Regions from separate parts of the Homo sapiens genome. Here region 1 is linked to region 2. Evidence: fine-mapped expression QTL. A gene starts in region 2. The other region holds a variant in brackets. All regions are shown on one strand. Distances are from middle to middle. Region 1 overlaps COPZ1 (coat protein complex I subunit zeta 1). Region 2 holds the start of COPZ1 (coat protein complex I subunit zeta 1).

Region 1 (9,376 bases), 20 kb after region 2:
AAACCTGTTTTCTTTTGTCCCTTAGTTGTACTGCTGCCCTGCTTGCTGTCCTCAGACTTTGACCTCCTTTGTTGTCAGCATCAGATCAGGGAAAAGCTTTGAAACTTTGGTTCCTAACAAAGCAGTATGTAGATGCTAAGAGGCAGTCCGCCCATGTCCATCATTCCTGTCCCCTTCCCTCATACCATGTCACCCTGCCTGGGTTTTTCCAGAGAATTGTCTTGCAGTTCCAGGTTTCCATTCCTAGGTTTATAGTCACCATCAAGCTTGTTACCTCCTGACTTTCCCAGAGTGATGTTTCCAACTTTAGATCTGTTGGAAGAAAGAAGAAAGGACACCCTCTCTCCCTCCATATTCTCCCCCTCCTGTAGAAATTTCTTCTGTCCCTGGTGTATTAACTCCGGGCGAGCGTAGCATAAATCAATCAGCAGGTAGAGATTAGTTTAGAATTCACCAGCTGTTCCTCCCTGTAATTGGATGTAACTATGCAGGACACCTTTTGAAACAGTTATCCAGTTACTAAATGCCAGACCTGTCATGGGTCTTCAGCTGACTGCGACGGATTAGCCCCTAAAGAGCTAGCGATTTAGCAGCCTGCATCTCCGCCCCCTTTGCCAGGGAGAGCCTGGGAATGGGCTCAGTGGTATGCTGGATGCTTCTTTCAGCTTGCAGAAAAGAAAGCTAAGATAGATCATAGGGCAGGGTTTGCCTTTCTTTGGAGGAGGTTTTTGTAGCCTTTCCCCATTCCTCAGCTTCATACAGTGAGTGAGGGTCTATGGAAGTGTTCTGTGCTTCTAGTGTTTTTTGTGTTCTCTGGCACTGCTTCCTGACATGGGGTAGCTCCTAGGAAACACTTGATGAGAATGGTTTTAGGAGAGGTCTAGATTGCAGACAGCTGCAGAGCCTCACTGTAGGGCTGGTAGGCTTCTGCCTTCAGACAGTCTTGGAAATGTGAGGTGGGGTTGCTTATGGCAGGGTCTTTTATTTATTTTTCTTGGATTACTCACTGCCCATTCTCTGCCTCTACAATCCTTCCTTTTCCATGTCAGTATTTCTCCCTTGCCCCATGCCTTGAAGGAGAGAAATCCAAGATCCCAGGGCAAAACATAGTCACTAATCATTCTGGCTTCCAGCTCTAGTGACCCAACCCTGTCTTCTTTCCCTCTGACCAGTACTATGACGACACCTACCCCAGTGTCAAGGAGCAAAAGGCCTTTGAGAAGAACATTTTCAACAAGACCCATCGGACTGACAGTAGGTCATTTTCCTTTCACTACTACCCGTGCTGGGGGGAACCATGGTGGAAAGGGGGTGGTAACAGGGCTGCAGAGAAAGGATGAAATGACTCTGCCTTTTTCTTTTTTTTTCCTTCTTCCCCTTGTATAATAAACTCTTCAGAATGTAATGGGGAGGTGAGTGTACCTCACGCGGGAATACCATGCTGGAAGGTTGGCTGTTAGCTACCTGTCTAGTCCCTGGATTTATGAGCCTCACTTGACAAATTTAATTGCAGCTCTGCTTATTGTACCGCATCCATTAGGGCAGGTAAATGGAAGTCTGTAAAGGTGACCGCTCTGCATTTTCACCTCCGAAGGATCGACTAGTATCCTGTCTCATATACAAGTAGGGAAATAGGTATAGTGGGCAGGAACAGAGGATGGTGGTTACAGAAGATACATTTAGACTCCCCCAAGTTCATACTTCTCTTCTCCTGCCACCACCCAAAAAGTGCAGATCATCTTCTGGCTTTGGAAGTCATTACAGGCGGCCTCACCTTAGCCCAAAAGAGCTGGATACTAGGAATTCATGGTAACGCCTTCTTTTTTTTTTTTTTTTTTTTTGAGACAGAGTCTCTCTCTGTCACCCAGGCTGGAGTACAGTGGCGAGATCTCGGCTCCCTGCAACCTCCGCCTCCCAGGTTCAAGTGGTTCTCCCATCTCACCCTCCTGAGTAGCAGGGATTACAGGTGCACACCACCACGCCCGGCTAATTTTTGTATTTTTAGTAGAGACGGGGTTTCACTGTGTTGGCCAGGCTGGTCTTGAACTCCTGACCTTAGGTGATCCGCCAGGCTCGGCTTCCCAAGGTGCTGGGATTACAGGCATGAGCCACTGCGCCTGGCTGGTAACTCCTTCTTTCCTACTTCCTTATCTCAAGCCACCCACTATTTTTACTTTTTTTCCCCCACCAGGTGAAATTGCCCTCTTGGAAGGCCTGACAGTGGTATACAAAAGCAGTATAGATCTCTATTTCTATGTGATTGGCAGCTCCTATGAAAATGAGGTGAGAATCCCCACCCCTCTTTGCTATTTCTGATCCTACTTTCTAAACCACAGGCAGTACATAGCCACTGGTTTGGGGCCCTAATAGAGCCGTGTTCCTCTGGCTTCTGACCAAGCTAATGAAGTTGTCAGAGATCCCACCAGCCTCACAAACATGGCCCGGCAAATGAATCGCCTAGAAAGGAAGTTTTCCTAGATTAATCTTTTGCATCCATTAGGAAACATCATATATGTTTTAATACCTTTCCCTGAGTAGTGTTTTTTAAGATGGATTTCTGAGGTATGGTCAAGACTGCAGGGGGATACTTGCTTCTTCTATGAAGGGTCCATACCTGACTGAGTTTGAGCCAATTAGCTAACAACCTGGGTCATGTTGAAACCATACATTCTGAATGGATCACTGGAGAAGACCTTGGGTATAGTCCTAACCTGCTTCCTATATGCAGGAAAAGCTGTTTGCCTCAGATAGCAACTTCTAGGAGAATAGATAAATAAAAATAAGCCCCCAGATAATTTGAGGCAAAAGTGAAAGTTTGAGAAAGTCAACTCTTACTGAGCTCTTATTATTGGTATAAGTGCTTTGTAAAGTATATTGTTATTTAAACCTCATAGCACTTCTATGAGTTGTAGGCATTGGTGCCTTTGTTTTACAAATGAGGAAACCAAACCATGAAGAACTATATGAAATTACTTGTATGTGACCATTGAGAAAAGTACAAAAGTGGCAGTTATCTGATGTGGTTCAACCTAGTAACTTTCTCAGGGTCACACATGTAGAAAATGGCTCAGCTTGGATTCCAACCCATATCTGTCTGACTTAAAGTCCATGCTTTTTAAAAAATTTTGAGACATAGGCCGAACGTGGTGGCTCACACCTGTAATCCCAGCACTTTGGGAGGCCAAGGTGGGCGGATCACTTGAGGTCAGGAGTTCGCGACCAGGCTGGCCAACATGGCGAAATCCCATCTCTACTAAAAATACAGGCCAGGCATGGTGGCTCACACCTGTAATCCCAGCACTTTGGGAGGCCGAGGCAGGCGGATCACGAAGTCAGGAGATTGAGACCATCCTGGCTAACACAGTGAAACCCCATGTCTACTAAAAATGCAAAAAATTAGCTGGGCGTGGTGCGGGCACCTGTAGTCCCAGCTACTCGGGAGGTTGAGGCAGGAGAATGGCATGAACCTGGGAGGCGGAGGTTGCAGTGAGCCGAGATCATACCACTGCATTCCAGCCTGGGCAACAGAGCGAGACTCCGTCTCAAACAAACAAACAACAACAACAACAAAAATTAGCTGGGCGTGGTGGTGGGCGCCTGTAATCCCAGCTACTTGGGAGGCTGAGGCAAGAGAATTGCTTGAACCTGGGAGGTGGAGGTTGCAGTGAGCTGAGATTGCGCCATTGCACTCCAGCCTGGGTGACAGAGCCAGACTCTCAAAAAAAAAAAAAAAATTTGAGACAGGGTCTTGTTCTGTCTCCCAGGCTGGACTGCAGTGGTGCGATCTTGGCTCACTGCAACCTCTGGCTCCCAGGCTCAAGTGATTCTACCACCTTAGCCTCCCAAGTAGCTGGGACTGCAGGTGCCCACCACCATGCCTGGCTAATTTTTTTTTGTATTGTTTGTAGACAGGGTTTTGCCATGTTGCCCAGGCTGGTCTCAACTCCTGAGCTCAAGCAATCGGCCTGCTGCAGCCTCCGAAAGTGCTGGGATAGAGTCAGAGTCTAGACAGGGTCTAGACGTTACAGGTGTGACCCACTGTGCCCAGCCAATTAAAGTCCATGCTTTTTACACTAACTCTGAAGCCTTCCTCTGACCTCAGCTATTGCTTGGTTAGTAATTTCTCTACCTAAGACATCAGGTAACACATATACAGTTGGTGAAGACATTGTAGAGGACTGTGACAGGGAAGTTCTGTTTAAACTTTTGGCTAAAAGATGTTGAATTGTGGAATCATGTAGCAGAATTTATTTCTGTGAGAAATCACAGATCCTTTTCCTGTTGTGCTCTCACTTCCACTTTATGTTTTTGGTCCTTTGTGAAAGCCTGTGTCTTTTGATGTTTAATGAATTAGGAGGTTTTGTTTTTAGGTAGCAGCTTTCAGGGCCTTGAACCTTATCCTTCTGCCTCCTCTGTTTCCCAACAGCTGATGCTTATGGCTGTTCTGAACTGTCTCTTCGACTCATTGAGCCAGATGCTGAGGTGAGCAGGACATTCTTTTTTTTCCCCTCAAGTTATGATGGAAAGAGCAGGGCATTGTTGATTTCTTTTTGGGAGATAAAGTAACCATTCTTCAGGCCCAGGGATTGTAGGGGATTGGCAAAGGCTCCAGGGAGTTGATTTAGTTTTAGAAGTTGGGTTTTGCCGGGCTCAGTGGCTCACGTTCGTAATCCCAGTACTTTGGGAGGCCAAGGCGGGCGGATCATGAGGTCAGGAGATTGAGACCATCCTGGTTAACATGGGGAAACCCTGTCTCCACTAAAAATACAAAAAATTAGCCGGGCATGGTAGCGGGCGCCTGTAGTCCCAGGTGCTTGGGAGGCTGAGGCAGGCGAATGGCATGAACCTGGGAGGCGGAGCTTGCAGTGAGCCGAGATCGCGCCACTGCACTCCAGCCTTGGCGACAGAGTGAGACTCTGTCTCAAAAAAAAAAAAAAAAGTTGGGTTTATTAATTCACAGTAATTCATGCTACTGGGGAGGACTGGATGGAGAGTATGTCCCTCCCATAGAATAATTCTCTTACTAAGTAAGGGGACTGGGAGGGAGCCGAATCTTTACCTCTGTGTTTACTCTTGTAATCCCCTGTGGTCCTGTCAGATCTGAGCATCCTCAAGGTGCTTTCCTGGGCTTCATTCTTGACATTAGAAGTAGGGAAAGGCCAAGCATAAGGAAGTGTCCCAGATGAAATGTCATTCAGTACTTCAGGAATGGAAGCAACACTCCCAATTTTTTTTTCTTTTTTTTTTTTTTTGAGATGGAGTCTCACTCTGTCACCCAGGCTGGAGTGCAGTGGCGTGATCTCGGCTCACTGCAACCTCTGCCTCCCAGGTTCAAGCGATTCTCCTGCCTCAGCCTCCCGAGTAGAGTAGCTGCAATTATAGGCACGTGCCACCAC[G/A]CCTGGCTAATTTTTGTATTTTTAGTGGAGACAGGGTTTTACCATGTTGGCCAGGCTGGTCTTGAACTCCTGACCTCAAATGATCCACCTACCTTGGCCTCCCAAAGTGCTGGGATTATAGGCATGAGCCACTTAGACCAGTTTTTTTTTGACTTCTAGTCCTTGTTTTTTCCCTTCTGTAGAACAGGAAGCACCCAGGCAGGAGGACTGCATGAGTCGAGTTCAAGACAAGCTTGGGCAACACAGTGAGACCCTGTCTCTGCAAAAAATAAAAAAATTAGCCAGGTGTGGTGGTGCATACCTGTAGTCTCAGCTACTTGGGAGGCTGAGGTAGGAAGATTGCTTGAGCCCAGGAGGTTGAGGCTGCAGTGAGCTGTGATCATGCTACTGCACTCCAGCCTAGGTGACATAGCAAGACCCTGTCTCAAAAAACAAAACAAAACAAAAAACAGGAAGCTTCTGCCATTTACCCTCTCCTCCCTTTCCACCTTCCCACTAGCCCTCTGTTCTCTGTTACCCGTGTAGATGGGTAATAGAAGAGATATAAGTTACTTTTCCTGAAAACATCCAGGGCTCTGAACTTCATTCCCCCAGCAGCTCCCAAGTGAACCCAGTACAGACAGCCATCCAGACCAGAACAGCAGGCACTCTCAGCCCTGCAAAATCAGCAGGGTGAATGGCTCAGATTTCCTCAGGAAGGGGATGATTTATTTCTTATCCAGGTGAATGAATAGTAATTCATTCGGGTAATCTAGTGAAAGACTCAAACTGACAGATGTGACAGGCCACATGCACCAACCAACGGATCTGAGGCTGGTGTATGCAGACCCTGCCCCCTCTTTGGGCTTCTTTTCAGGGCCTGAGCAGAGCTGGTAAGGGATAGGGAGAAGAGGGAACAGAGAATGTCTCAGGAGGTTTGTCAGAGCTTGAGTACAAATAAGGTTTGCATTGAACCCCTCTCACCTCCGGCCACCTCCAGACTGAGTCTTAGCTCTGTTTATATTGTTTTTTTCCACCCACTGATGTCAGTGTTTATGAGCAATGTTATGAGCAGCATCATGGCAGGTAGGAAAGAAATAATAGCGTGGATAATCAACCCCTGAATAGTCAGAAATTGACTGTGTTATTTGAATCTCTTTCCATACATTCCTTATTCAGCAAACGAGTAGAAAGGGGTTTTGAGTGAACTAGCTAAAAAGTTCTTCACCTTATTTACTTCTTTGTGTGGTTGGTGGAGATGTTTATTGGTCTAGTTTAGGTTCCTCAATTGAGACAAGGTCCTAGGATTTCTTTCACATACAAGTTGGTTATTCTCTTCTCTTCTCTTGGGGACTCAGGAAAAATGTAGAAAAGCGAGCACTGCTGGAGAACATGGAGGGGCTGTTCTTGGCTGTGGATGAAATTGTAGATGGAGGGTAAGTTCTCTGACCTGCCTTGATCTTGGGTGAGGTGGCGGGATAACTGCCCCTGTCCTAAGTCAAGCAGGCTCAGTGGCCAGAGGTCCTGTTCCCCGACAGTGAGTTGGGCCTTCGGGACAGAGTGAACAATGATCTCTTCTTTGTTTTTGCAGGGTGATCCTAGAGAGTGATCCCCAGCAGGTGGTACACCGGGTGGCATTAAGGGTAAGCAAGAATGTGTTTCTTTGCATCCCCGCATCTATTCACAAACACCCTCCAGAGCCAGACCTGCTGGATGTGTCCAGTAGTTGGGGCTCATAGGATACATACAACCTTCTCTTTTTCTTTCAAATACATTCAGCCTTTCTCTTCCCTTCTCTTCTTATTGTCCCAAAGAAAGAAGCAGAAATAACTTATTTCTACCCCTAATATGGTGCCTAACATCTCATACAGTCTTTGCACAAAGTGGACATTTAATACATACTTATTTAATAAATGATAAAATAAACTTTAATATTTATGGTTTTGAAATTATAAAGCAACTTGAAGTTGGCTTATTCCCTTCTTGGAGATGGATCCAGTCATCTGAGGCAGAGGAGTGTCTGTTTTGTCTTTTAAAGTGTTACATAGGACTGAGCGTGGTGGCTCACACCTGTAATCCCAGCACTTTGGGAAGCCGAGGCTGGCGGATCACAAGGTCAGGAGTTCGAGACCAGCCTGACCAACATGGTGAAACCCTGTCTCTACTAAAGACACAAAAATTAGCTGGGCATGGTGGTGCGTGCCTGTGATCCCAGCTACTCAGGAGGCTAAGGCAGGAGAATTGCTTGAGCCCGGGAGGTGGAGGTTGCAGTGAGCCGAGATTGCACCACTGCACTCCAGCCTGGGCGACAGAGTGAGACTCTGTCTCAAAAAAAATAAATAAATAAAATAATAATAATAAAGTGTTACATAACTGAGGATGGTACCTCTCCATTAGGAAGTACTTATTTGCCAGAACCTCAGTCCTCTTTGGTGCTGGTGATATCAGAAAGGGGCCTCTGAGTTAACCATAGAAGGCCCCAGGTCAGCTGAGGAGATAATGGTGGATGCAGAGAGAGCCCACCAACAAATTATACGGGTGCAAAGATGTCTGAGCAAAGCAAATCTCCCCATTCACAGAATGTCCTGGCTCTGACCTCCACAGAGTGAAGGCTGACAGTGCTTGGTAATGGGAAATCTCTCTTAACTGCTGTGGGCTCCATTTGCATAGTTTAATCTTCTCCTCTAACATATGTCTCTGTGTGGCAAGAGAGAGGGTCCCCCCCATCAACTCCCCGCTTTGTCTTCTTAGGCTGCTGTTGCAGCAGTTTATTTCTTCAAATTAACATGCTGTCGTTACCCATCAGGCTTTGCGGGATCCATTAAACCACTCCTGGCTCCCCCTCATCCTTTCCCTAGTGATACTGATATTCAGAAAAGGCCTTTTCTGACTAGGGAATCAGGTCCTCCACCCCCACGTTAAGGGAGTTGAGGATCAGATAACCTGCTGGTTACTCTGAATGGAGTTAAATCTTTTAAGAAGTCCTCCTGCCTTAAAATGGAAGCTGGATGAAATGACCCTTTTTTGTTCATAGTCCCTCTGGCCAAGTAAAATTGTAGCTGTACTAGTCCCTAGAAGGGACTGAGAAGTTCAGTGCATCTGCCCTTTGTTTCAGTTTAAAGGATCACTTTTTTCTTCTCTAATACCAGACTCCAATCAGGTCTTACTCCAGCTTTCTCCCACACTAAATGCTTGTATCTCTGTGCCATAGGGTGAAGATGTCCCCCTTACGGAGCAGACCGTGTCTCAGGTATGACTCTCCCTTCTTCCTTTCCAGATGGACTGGGTCACTAAAGAGGCTAGAACAGCATTCCACCCATACCTCTCAAATCTGAGTGAAACTAGAGACTCAAGACACATCTTCCTTGGCTCCCTCTTATTCCAGAGAACTGGGACTCATACAGCCAGCCACTCCCTACCCCTACTTCCAACTCCTTTCTCAGTTACCTGTGAGCAGTGGCTGTCAGCCTTGCTCTGTACCCTTCAAACCCTCCCTGCCTGCCTGATGCCTCATTCAGTGATTTATTCCCCAGCAGAGGCTTGCCTTAAGCAGATGGTCTGTGTGCATTTGTGCACACACACTCTCTTTCTCTTATTATTCAATTGAGGGCTAAGCTGGAAATGCATATTCTAGAATATGCAGGTTTTGCAGATCCATCTTGCTACCTTGACTGCAGATAGATTGTCTACCTGATGTAGGGGGAAGGGAGGGGTTCCGTTTTCTACCCACTTGGAATTCTCACCAAGAAGTCCATCTGGATTTGTTACCCGCCCCCTGCCCGCCGCCCCTTTTAACATATGTCCAGTAACTCCCTTTTTTTTTTTCTTTTATACCAGGTATACCTCTTCTCTCTTCATCCCCTCAGTGGGTTTGAATTTTTTTGGAATTTTCCAAACAATCTGCTAGGGCCTTAGAGAGCTTCTTCCCATCTCTTTACCCTTGGGGATTTTCTATTCTCCATTCTTCTAAGGACAGGGAAGACAAGTGAGGGGAAGGAGAT
Region 2 (9,569 bases):
AAAGCTCTGGTCTGAACCTCTCCCCTTTCCAGAAGTGACAGCTATAGTCCATCCAGAGAGGGTACAGAGACTTGCAGAGTTCTCTCACTGATTAAAGCAAAGTCACAACAATAACTAATGTCTCTAATTCAGTCAATTGTCTTCCTCCCACAGCACAATTACCCCAACAGGCTGGAGAGCTAAGAATCAAGCGATCTTCTGCAACAATATCTGACTTAAAATTTGTCAGTTACTACACAGAAAAAGGAGCCAACCATCCCCATGAACCAACCATACCACACTTTTTCCTCCTTATGGTCCTTGTAGAATATCTGGCACTGAGGTAGAGTCCTTGAGGTAGGACTGGGATGCAAGAGAGGCAGTACAACAAACTAGAGGAGTGGACTGTGGGTAAGAACATGGTTTAGAGTCTCCTGTGCTCAAACGTATGGCTGCTAAAACAGTTCTGTAGCCTTAAGTAAATTATTTAACTGCTCTAAACTCCATGTTGCTCATCTGTAAAATGGGTTTAATAATCATCTACTTCGTAAGGATTTTTTATTTTATTTGTTTTTTTTGAGACGGAGTCTCACTCTGTCACCCAGGCTGGAGTGTAGCATGCAATGTCGGCTACTGCAACCTCTGCCCTCTGAGTTCAAGCGATTCTCCTGCCTCAGCCTACCAAGTAGCTGGGATTTCAGGTGCCTGCCACCGCGCCCGGCTAATTTTTTGTATTTTTAGTAGAGACGGGGTTTCACCATCTTGGCCAGGCTGGTCTTAAACTCCTGACCTCGTGATCCACCCGCCTCGGTCTCCCAAAGTGCTGAGATTGCAGGTGTGAGCCACCGCACCCGGCCAGGAATTTTTTTTTTTTTTTTTTTTGAGACAGAGTTTTGCTCTTGTTGCCCATGCTGGAGTGCAATGGCAGGATCTCGCTCATTGCAACCTCCACCTCCCGGGTTCAAGAGATTCTCCTGCCTTAGCCTCCGGAGTAGTTGGGATTACAGGCACCTGCCACCACACCTAGCTAATCTTTGTATTTTTAGTAGAGACGGGGTTTCACCATGTTGGCTAGTCTGGTCTCGAACTCCCGGCCTCAGGTGATCTGCCTGCCTCAGCCTCCCAAAGTTTTGGGATTACAGGCATGAGCCACCATGCCCAGCTACTTCATAAGGATTTTAAAAAATGTATTCAATAATGTATTTAAAGATTTAGCACCGTGCCTGGCACATAATAAGTGGGCAGTAAATGTTAGTATTACCTTTAAGCTGCAAAGCCAATGACAACCCACTGACTGTGATGCCAGGCACAGTAAATGTGTGAACAACTCTCCTTGAGGAATAAAAGGACAAGCCTTCACTTCTTCCAGATATAAGGCTTAACACCTGGTATTCCACCAGAAATTCACCTTCTGTCAGAGTACACTGTAGGTCTATAATTTGCATTGTATTGTTCAATTTTTTATTTTATCTTATTTTTATATACAGACTGGGTCTCCCTGTGTTGTCGAGGCTGGAATGCAGTGGCTATTCCCAGGCACAATCACTGCGCACTACGGCCTCGAACTCTTGGGCTCAAGCATCCTCCTGCCTCAGCCCCTGGGGTAATTGGTACTACAGGCACATGCCACAGCGCCCTTGTATTGTATTGTTTTATGTTTCCTTGATTCTACTCCGACTATTAGAAAAATTCCTGGGTGGCTGGGCCCGGTGGCTCACGCCTGTAATCCCAGCACTTTGGGAGGCCAAGGCGGGTGGATCATCTGAGGTCCGGAGTTCGAGACCAGCCTGGCCAGTATGGCGAAACCCCGTCTCTACTAAAAGTACAAAAATTAGCCAGGGGTGGCAGGCGCCTGTAATCCCAGCTACAAGGGAGGCTGAGGTGGCAGGGAGAATCGCTTGCAACCGGGAGGCGGAGGTTACAGTGAGCCAAAATCACACCACTGCACTCCAGCCTGGCGACAGAGAGAGACTCCGTCTTAAAAAAAAAAAAAAAAAAAAAAAGGCCGGGTGCAGCAGTGGCTCACGCCTGTAATCCCAGCACTCTGGGAGGCCGAGGCGGGCGGATCACGAGGTCAGGAGATGGAGACCATCCTGGCTAACACGGTGAAACCCCGTCTCTACTAAAAATACAAAAAATCAGCCAGGCGTGGTGGTGGGCGCCTGTGGTCCCAGCTACTCTGGAGGCTGAGGCAGGAGAATGGCGTGAACCCGGGAGGCGGAGCTTGCAGTGAGCCGAGATTGAGCCACTGCACTCCAGCCTGGGGGACAGAGCGAGACTCCGTCTCAAAAAAGAAAAATTCCTGGGTAAGTTTGGAATCTCTTCTTGGAGGGCTCCTAAGGATATAATTTTCAGAGATGAGGGAAAAAATCCCTTTAGGATAATTAAGGTAATAGGTGTCCCTGCCCTAAGAGGAGTCAGGGATCAGGAAACCAAGGGATAGGGGAAAGCCAAGCTTCATCAAAATCATTCCCTATTGTGAAATTCTTGCATTCAGTAAACTTCTCTTTTCTCATTTTGCAACGCCTCATTTCTTTCCTCTCCTTTCTTTCCTTCTCTTTCTTTCTTTCTTTCTTTCTTTCTTTCTTTCTTTCTTTCTTTCCTTCCTTCCTTCCTTCCTTCCTTTCTTTCTTTCTTTTCTTTCTTTCTCCTTTTCTTTTCTCTTCTCTTCTCCTTTTCTTTTCTTTTCTTTTTTTTTTGAGATGGAATTTCGCTCTTGTTGCCCAGGCTGGAGTGCAATGACGAGATCTCGCCTCACCTCAACCTCCGCCTCCCAGGTTCAAGTGAGTCTCCTGGTTCAGCCTCCCGAGTAGCTGGGATTACAGGCATGTTCCACCACGCCCGGCTAATTTTGTATATATGTATATTTTTTGAGACGGAGTCTCGCTCTGTCACCCAGGTTGGAGTGCAGTGGCGCGATCTCAGCTCACTGCAAACTCCGCCTCCTGGGTTCACGCCATTGTCCTGCCTCAGCCTCCAGAGTAGCAGGGACTACAGGCGCCCGCCACCCACGCCCGGCTAATTTTTTGTATTTTTAGTAGAGACGGGGTTTCACTATGTTAGTCAGGATGGTCTTGATCTCCTGATCTCGTGATCCGCCCGCCTCGGCCTCCCAAAGTACTGGGATTACAGGTGTGAGCCATCACGCTCGGCCTGTATTTTTTTTTTTTAGTAGAGACGGGGTTTCTCCATGTTGGTCAGGTTGGTTTCAAACTCCCGACCTCAGATGATCCGCTCGCCTCGGCCTCCCAAAGTGCTGGGATTACAGGCTTGAGCCACCGCGCCCAGGCACAACGGCTTGTTTCTATTGGAAAACCCCAGAATTTACTCCCTATAACCCCTCTCTTATTCTAATCCCATCCCTTTCCCCGTTTGTCCCGCAAACCCCATCTCCAAAGCCGATTTCACGTTGAGCTCAAGTTGGCCTTTACAAACTGACTTCTCATGTTCCTCAGGCCCAGCAAAGCCTGGAACTCCACCTTAGGGAGATTGTTATTGCGACTATCAACTCCTGGCAGCCTTGGTTTATGTAGTTAACATGTTGGGCCTTTCTTGGCTCTACTCTATGGTTGTGCAGACTTTCTGTGAGGATGCTGAAGTGACCTGAGCGAGCATGAGGGAAGGGCTAGCCACAGAGATCATGGACCTAATGCGGGCGCTGAAAATAGGGATTAGGGCAGGATTCCGGTTAGAAAGCGCCAGTGTTAAAGGCTAAGGAGACACAGCGCCCCCTAAAGAGGGTGCGGTTTAAAAATCGCTAAATCAGTCCGACAATATCACGTGTCCTCGGCCCTACCAATTGAAAATTAACAATCGCTTCTTCTGTTCCCCATGGAAACAACCCCGCCCCACTAACCCTCCCGCCCCAATGAGTCGTGAGGTTTTGGCGTTTTATTGAGTATTCAAGCTGACAATCAAACACCTGAGCCTTCTGGTTGGACACTTTGCTTCCGGTAAGCAAGCTAGTACAATAATTGGCCAATAAAGCAAGCCTTACCCAATGATCCTTATCCTAGGCGGGGCCTAATGGGAACGTATGGCCAATCAGCGGCGGCGTTTCTTTTGCGGCTCCACGTCGGCACCAGCTGCGGGGCAAGATGGAGGCGCTGATTTTGGTAGGAGCTGGAGGGGCAGCAGAGATGCTGTGGTGTCCACAGGGGCCGGGAGTCAGGGTTCAGCCCGAGTGGGAGACGGGGAAAGAGAGTTCCGGGTAATTCTTGGGGACTGAGCGTTCTGCTGACCTTTGGAATAAGTGTGTGGCCTAGTGTAGGAGCTAAAGCCTTGGTTTAGAGTAGGAAGCCCTGCCGGGGAGAGGGCATAGAGTCGGTGGAAAGTTGAAGGCAGCACATGGACTCCTTAGGATACACAGACCTGTAGGCGTACTGGATTAGGACCCTTCAGGTTGCCCCTTATTTTTAGCATTGTGGATGATACCCTGATTTTAATTTACCAAACCACCAAACTCGCCCCATATTGTAAGAAAAGAATACAGATGTTTTGTCGTTACAGACTCCTCCTGATGGTTTCCCAAGTTTGACTCTCCATTGCCGATTCCCTGCCACATTCCTTCAGGAAACTGTTTTGTCTTCGGTTTCCTGTTAATCCCTATTATATAGGTTTGTCAAATAATCAGTATTCCATCAAAGTTCTGGGATACCTGATAAAGTTAGCATGGATTGTGGAATATTTTTTCTAGACTCCTTATTCTGTTCTCCTTTTCTCTACCCATTTAGACCTTAGGAATTCTTTTTTTTTTTTTTTTTTTTTGAGACCGAGCCTTGCTCTGTCACCCAGGCTGGAGTGCGCACGTGGCGCGATCTTGGCTCACTGCAATCTCCACCTCCCGGGTTCAAGCTATTCTCTTGCCTCAGCCTCCCGCGTAGTTGGGACTATAGGCGCGTGCCACCACGCCCGGCTATTTTTTTTGTATTTTTAGTAGAGACGTGGTTTCACCATGTTGGCCAGGCTGGTTTCGAACTCCTGACCTCAAGTGATCCGCCCGCCTCGGCCTCCCAAAGTGCTAGGATTACAGGCTTGAACCACCGCGCCTGGCCAGGAATTATTATTATTATTATTATTATTATTATTTTTGAGACGGAGTCTCACTCTGTCGCCCAGGCTGGAGTGCAGTGGTACGATCTCGGCTCACTGCAAGCTCCGCCTCCCGGGTTCACGCCATTCTTCTGCCTCAGCCTCCGGAGTGGCTGGGACTACAGGCGCTCGCCACCACTCCCGGCTAATTTTTTGTATTTTTTAGTAGAGACGGAGTTTCACCGTGTTAGCCAGGATGGTCTCGATCTCCTGACCTCGTAATCCACCCGCCTCGGCCTCCCAAAGTGCTGGGATTACAGGCGTGAGCCACTGCGCCGGGCCAGGAATTCTTATTGTATGATCTAGGATGCTAATTTCTCCCTCTCTGGTTACATGAGAATTGTGGTCGCTAAAGGGCTGTATTAGCCCTCTTGTCCATATGATGCTTTATGCTTGTTCTAACAAATAAAATACCTGTTACCCCTTTTTAGAACTGGACCAGAGAATTTCTCTCAAAAGTGCCCTATTTTGCGATTTGGAGGGGTGTGTGTGTGTGTGTGTGTGTGTGTGTGTGTGTGTGTGTAGGTAGGTAGGTAGTATAGTGTAGGAATTTAACTCCCAGCCTTCTTCCTTAATTGGCTTGAACTCTAGGCCTCTTTCCAAAGAAGCTTGTCTTTTATTTTCCTTCAGATCTCCTAAGCATACACATTCAGATCCTCATCAGATAAAAGAATAACAGGTTTTAATTCCTCTCTTTCAGTTAAAGACAGTTAATTCCTTATGTCGGTTGGTCAAATATAGGTAAAAAGCTTAAAATCTGAGTAGTTTTAAATATTTTCTGTACCAAGCAGTTAACAAGTATTCTTTTTTTTTTTTTTTTTTTTTTTTTTTTTTTTTTTTTGAGATAGAGTCTGGCTGTGTTGCCCAGGCTGGGGTGCAGTGGTGCAATCTTGGCTCACTGCAACCTCCGCCTCCCAGAATCAAGCAATTCTCATGCCTCAGCTTCCTGAGTAGCTGGGGTTACAGGCACGCGCCACCATGCCCAGCTAATTTTTGTATTTTTAGTAGAAACAGGGTTTCTCCATGTTTGCCAGGCTGGTCTAGTCTTGAACTCCTGACCTCAAGTGATCTGCCTGCCTTGGCCTCCCAAAGTGCTGGGATTACAGGTGTGAGTCACTGCACCCCGGCCAGTTAGCAAGTTTTTTTTTTTTTTTTTGGAAACAGAGTCTCGCTGTGTCACCCAGGCTGGAGTGCAGTGGTGTGATCTCACCTCACTGCAACCTCTGCCTCCTGGGTTGAAGCAATTTCTCCTGCCTCAGCCTCACGAGTAGCTGGGACTACAGGCACGTGCTGCCACACCTGGCTAACTTTTTTGTATTTTAGTAGAGACGGTTTCACTGTGTTGCCCAGGCTGGTCTTGAACTCTTGAGCTCAGGCAATCCACCTGCCTCAGCCTCCCAAAGTGCTAGGATTATAGGAGTGAGCCACCGTGCCCGGCAGCAAGTATTCTTAATCAAGAGGTTGAGTGCAGTGGCTCATGCCTGTAATCCCAGCACTGTAAGAGGCTGAGGCAGGAGGATCGCTTGAGCCTGGGAGTTTGAGGCTGCAGTGAGCTATGATTGTGCCACTGCACTCCAGCATGGGTGACAAAGCCAGACCCTGTCTCTAAAAAAATAAGAATAAAAAACCTCCCCCTAAACCCAATTAGCAGACTAGGATAGATTCTAGGGAATTGGTTTTTTTGGAAGTTTTTAGACTTACCTATATATGTTTAGAAGGGAGCCTGCTTAAAGGTAAAGGAATGAGGAAGATAATAATTGGGGAGCCCTTTTAACAATGGGCCTGTGTGTAGTGGGTAAGCTGGGGGAGTTATATGTGAAAGTATCTCTGTCGGGCGCAGTGCAGTGGCTCATGCCTGTAATCCTAGCACTTTGGGAGGCTGAGGTGGGCGGATCACTTGAGGTCAGGAGTTCGAAACCAGCCTGGCCAACATGGTGAAACCATGTCTCTACTAAAAATACAAAAAAAAATAGCTGGGCGTGGTGGCACGAGCCTATAGTCCCAACTACTCAGGAGGCTGAGGCAGGAGAATCACTTGAGCCAGGGAGGCAGAGGTTGCAGTGAGCCGAGATCGCGCCACTGCACTCCAGCCCAGGCGACAGTGTTAGACTCCATCTCAAAAAAAAAAAAAAGGCCGGGCACGGTGGCTCACGCCTGTAAATCCAGCACTTTGGGAGGCCGAGGTGGGCGGATCACGAGGTCAGGAGTTGGAGACCAGCCTGACCAACATGGTGAAACCCGGTCTCTGCTAAAAATACAAAACTTAGCTGGGCGTGGCCACGCCTGTAATCCCAGCTACTCAGGAAGCTGAGGCAAGAGAATCACTTGAACCTGGGAGGCAGAGGTCGCGGTGAGCCGAGATGCGCCACTGCACTCCAGCCTGGGTGACAGAGCAAGGCTCTGTCTCAGAAAAGTTAAAGAAAAAGAAAGTCTCTCTGTCACATTTCTCTTCCCTTAGTTCTCTGTCTCTGCTTCTTCAGTGAAGTCTGTTTCAGCCTGCTTCTTCCTTATTCTTTTGCTTTAATCTATGCCTAATAGGCTGCATTCACAGATCCCTGCTAACTTGATCAGGTAACCCTGGACTTTGCTTTTAAAACCACACTGGTTCTTTGTTATGGGAAACCTATGTAATGCGGTTAGGGACAATCTGATCAAAGCATATTCTTCTGTCCTTAACTCTACAAGGTACATACATAGCTGCAGGATGTCGAGAAAAAGGGACAGGTAAGCTACAGGGGGTCAAGAAGAACTGTTGATCAAAGTTTGCATTGATTGTGGAATTTCTAAATAACAGTAAGTTCCCTTCTTTTAGGTACTTTACAGTGGGTCACATGGTCACATTTCTTTCTTGAATTAAGTAATCCAGCTCTAGCTTTCAAGCAGATTTGTCTAATCTCTCTCAGGTCTCCTTAGGCTCTAAGGAAAGAGACCCTTTCATCTCTTTTAGTTCCCAATGCTTAATAATAGTGATCTCAGCCTGCATCTTTGGACTTGGCTTCTTCTCTCTTGCTGTATCTGCTGGTTCTCGCTTTTTGAGTTGTGAATGAAGAGGATCTCTGCAGATCACCATTCTCCATTAATAACCTGTGGAATCTTAAAGATAAGGATTTCCCCTTCCTCCTTCCTGCTTTACTTTTTTTCTTTAAAGCTGAATTACTCGGGCCGGGCTCGGTGGCTCACACCTGTAATCCTGAGGTGAGTGGATCACCTGAGGTCAGGAGTTCAAGACCAGCCTGACCAACATGGTGAAACCCGTCTCTGCTAAAAATACAAAAATTAGCTGGGCGTGGTGGCATGCGCTTGTAATCCCCAGCTACACGGGAGACTGAGGCAGGAGAATCGCTTGAACCTGGGAGGCGGAGGTTGCAGTGAGCCGAGGGCCATTGCACTCCAGCCTGGGCAAAAAGTGAAACTCTGTCTTAAAAAACAAACAAAACTGAATTCTGTATCGGTTTAGATCTTTAAATCTTTGTTCATAGGTTTTATTTTTCCTAATCCTCTCTGGATTCACTTTCAGAGTGCTTCTCCAGTGCTTTACAGACTAGACTTCTAATTCTGTACTTTGTCTTACCTTAATATTTTAAAACCATAACCAAATCCTAAATTCTAAGCCTCATTAAAAAATCAGGCCATCCAAAGTGCACAAGGATATGAGTATGTATGGAGGAGGAAACTATGCAGAATATGTCAATGACTTTAAAGGTTGATGTTGCTCCTTGGCCTTTGCTTCCTGAATCATCTTAATGGGGCTTTTGTTAAATTCCTTTGGCCCTAACAGTAGAGGTACTTGGCCTAAATGCCCCCCTCCCCCTGCTCTGGGCAAAGGTATCAATTACATTAAGCCCCTAAAGCACTCCCATCTCGTTCCTGGCAGTCCCCTGTGCCCCTCTCCCAGCTGCGTCCTTGCTGGTGCCTGGCCCCCTCCATTTTGTTAGGAGAAGCAATCTCCTCATTCCTGCGCTGTGGAGATATATTTCTCAGCTAGGGCGCGAGCAGTGCCAGCACTGCCCCCGGTGAGGTCCCTGGCAGCAATAAAAATTTTTATTGTGATTATGTTGGTGTCGGGGTGTCCATCTGGGTTATTGCACACCTAGTTTAATTGATTGAAGTTTAATTTATTGACACTTCAAATTAAATGATCAGAATAAACTGTGCTGTTACTCTGGCCAGCTTGTTTTAATGGTTGATTGCTGGAAGCAGACCTCGGCTTGAACTAAAACCCCCAAAGAGCAATTGACGCTGCTTCTAACTCTCCCCATGTCTTGCCCTCCAAGAAGACCTTGTTATAGATTTCCGACGTATTTATATATATTTTTTCCCTCTTCTTCACAGTGGTGGGAAAGAGTTGGTCCCTGGCAAGGTATAAATTATATCAAAGATCTAGGGGAGCTGTCACATGGTCAGAAGAGGAGGAGGGGGCCTCCATGTGAGGAAAACCAGACCCTTGAGAAGCCAGGTCTGCCTTGGGAGGCAGAGGATGAGTGCAATTATCCAGGTAT

Evidence for each region. PIP is the estimated chance that this variant, and not a neighbour inherited with it, causes the effect.
Region 1: its variant is the best candidate, but not a certain one, in a credible set for the expression of COPZ1 in whole blood (TOPMed, PIP 0.52).

Annotation. Positions count from the first base shown.
Region 1 is chr12:54,341,034-54,350,409 of GRCh38, forward strand. It overlaps COPZ1 (coat protein complex I subunit zeta 1), which reads left to right. Exons shown (of 9, transcript NM_016057.3): 3 at 1,173-1,254; 4 at 2,192-2,283; 5 at 4,427-4,482; 6 at 6,734-6,811; 7 at 6,967-7,018; 8 at 8,587-8,625. It also overlaps the pseudogene RN7SL744P. Among named protein-coding and RNA genes, the nearest start is that of GPR84-AS1, 8.0 kb to the right of the region's middle. The variant G/A (reference allele first, on the strand shown) is at 5,397.
Region 2 is chr12:54,321,088-54,330,656 of GRCh38, forward strand. COPZ1 (coat protein complex I subunit zeta 1) reads left to right here and starts at 4,044. Exons shown (of 9, transcript NM_016057.3): 1 at 4,044-4,094. The coding sequence starts at 4,077. RefSeq lists enhancers at 8,104-8,794, 8,795-9,484.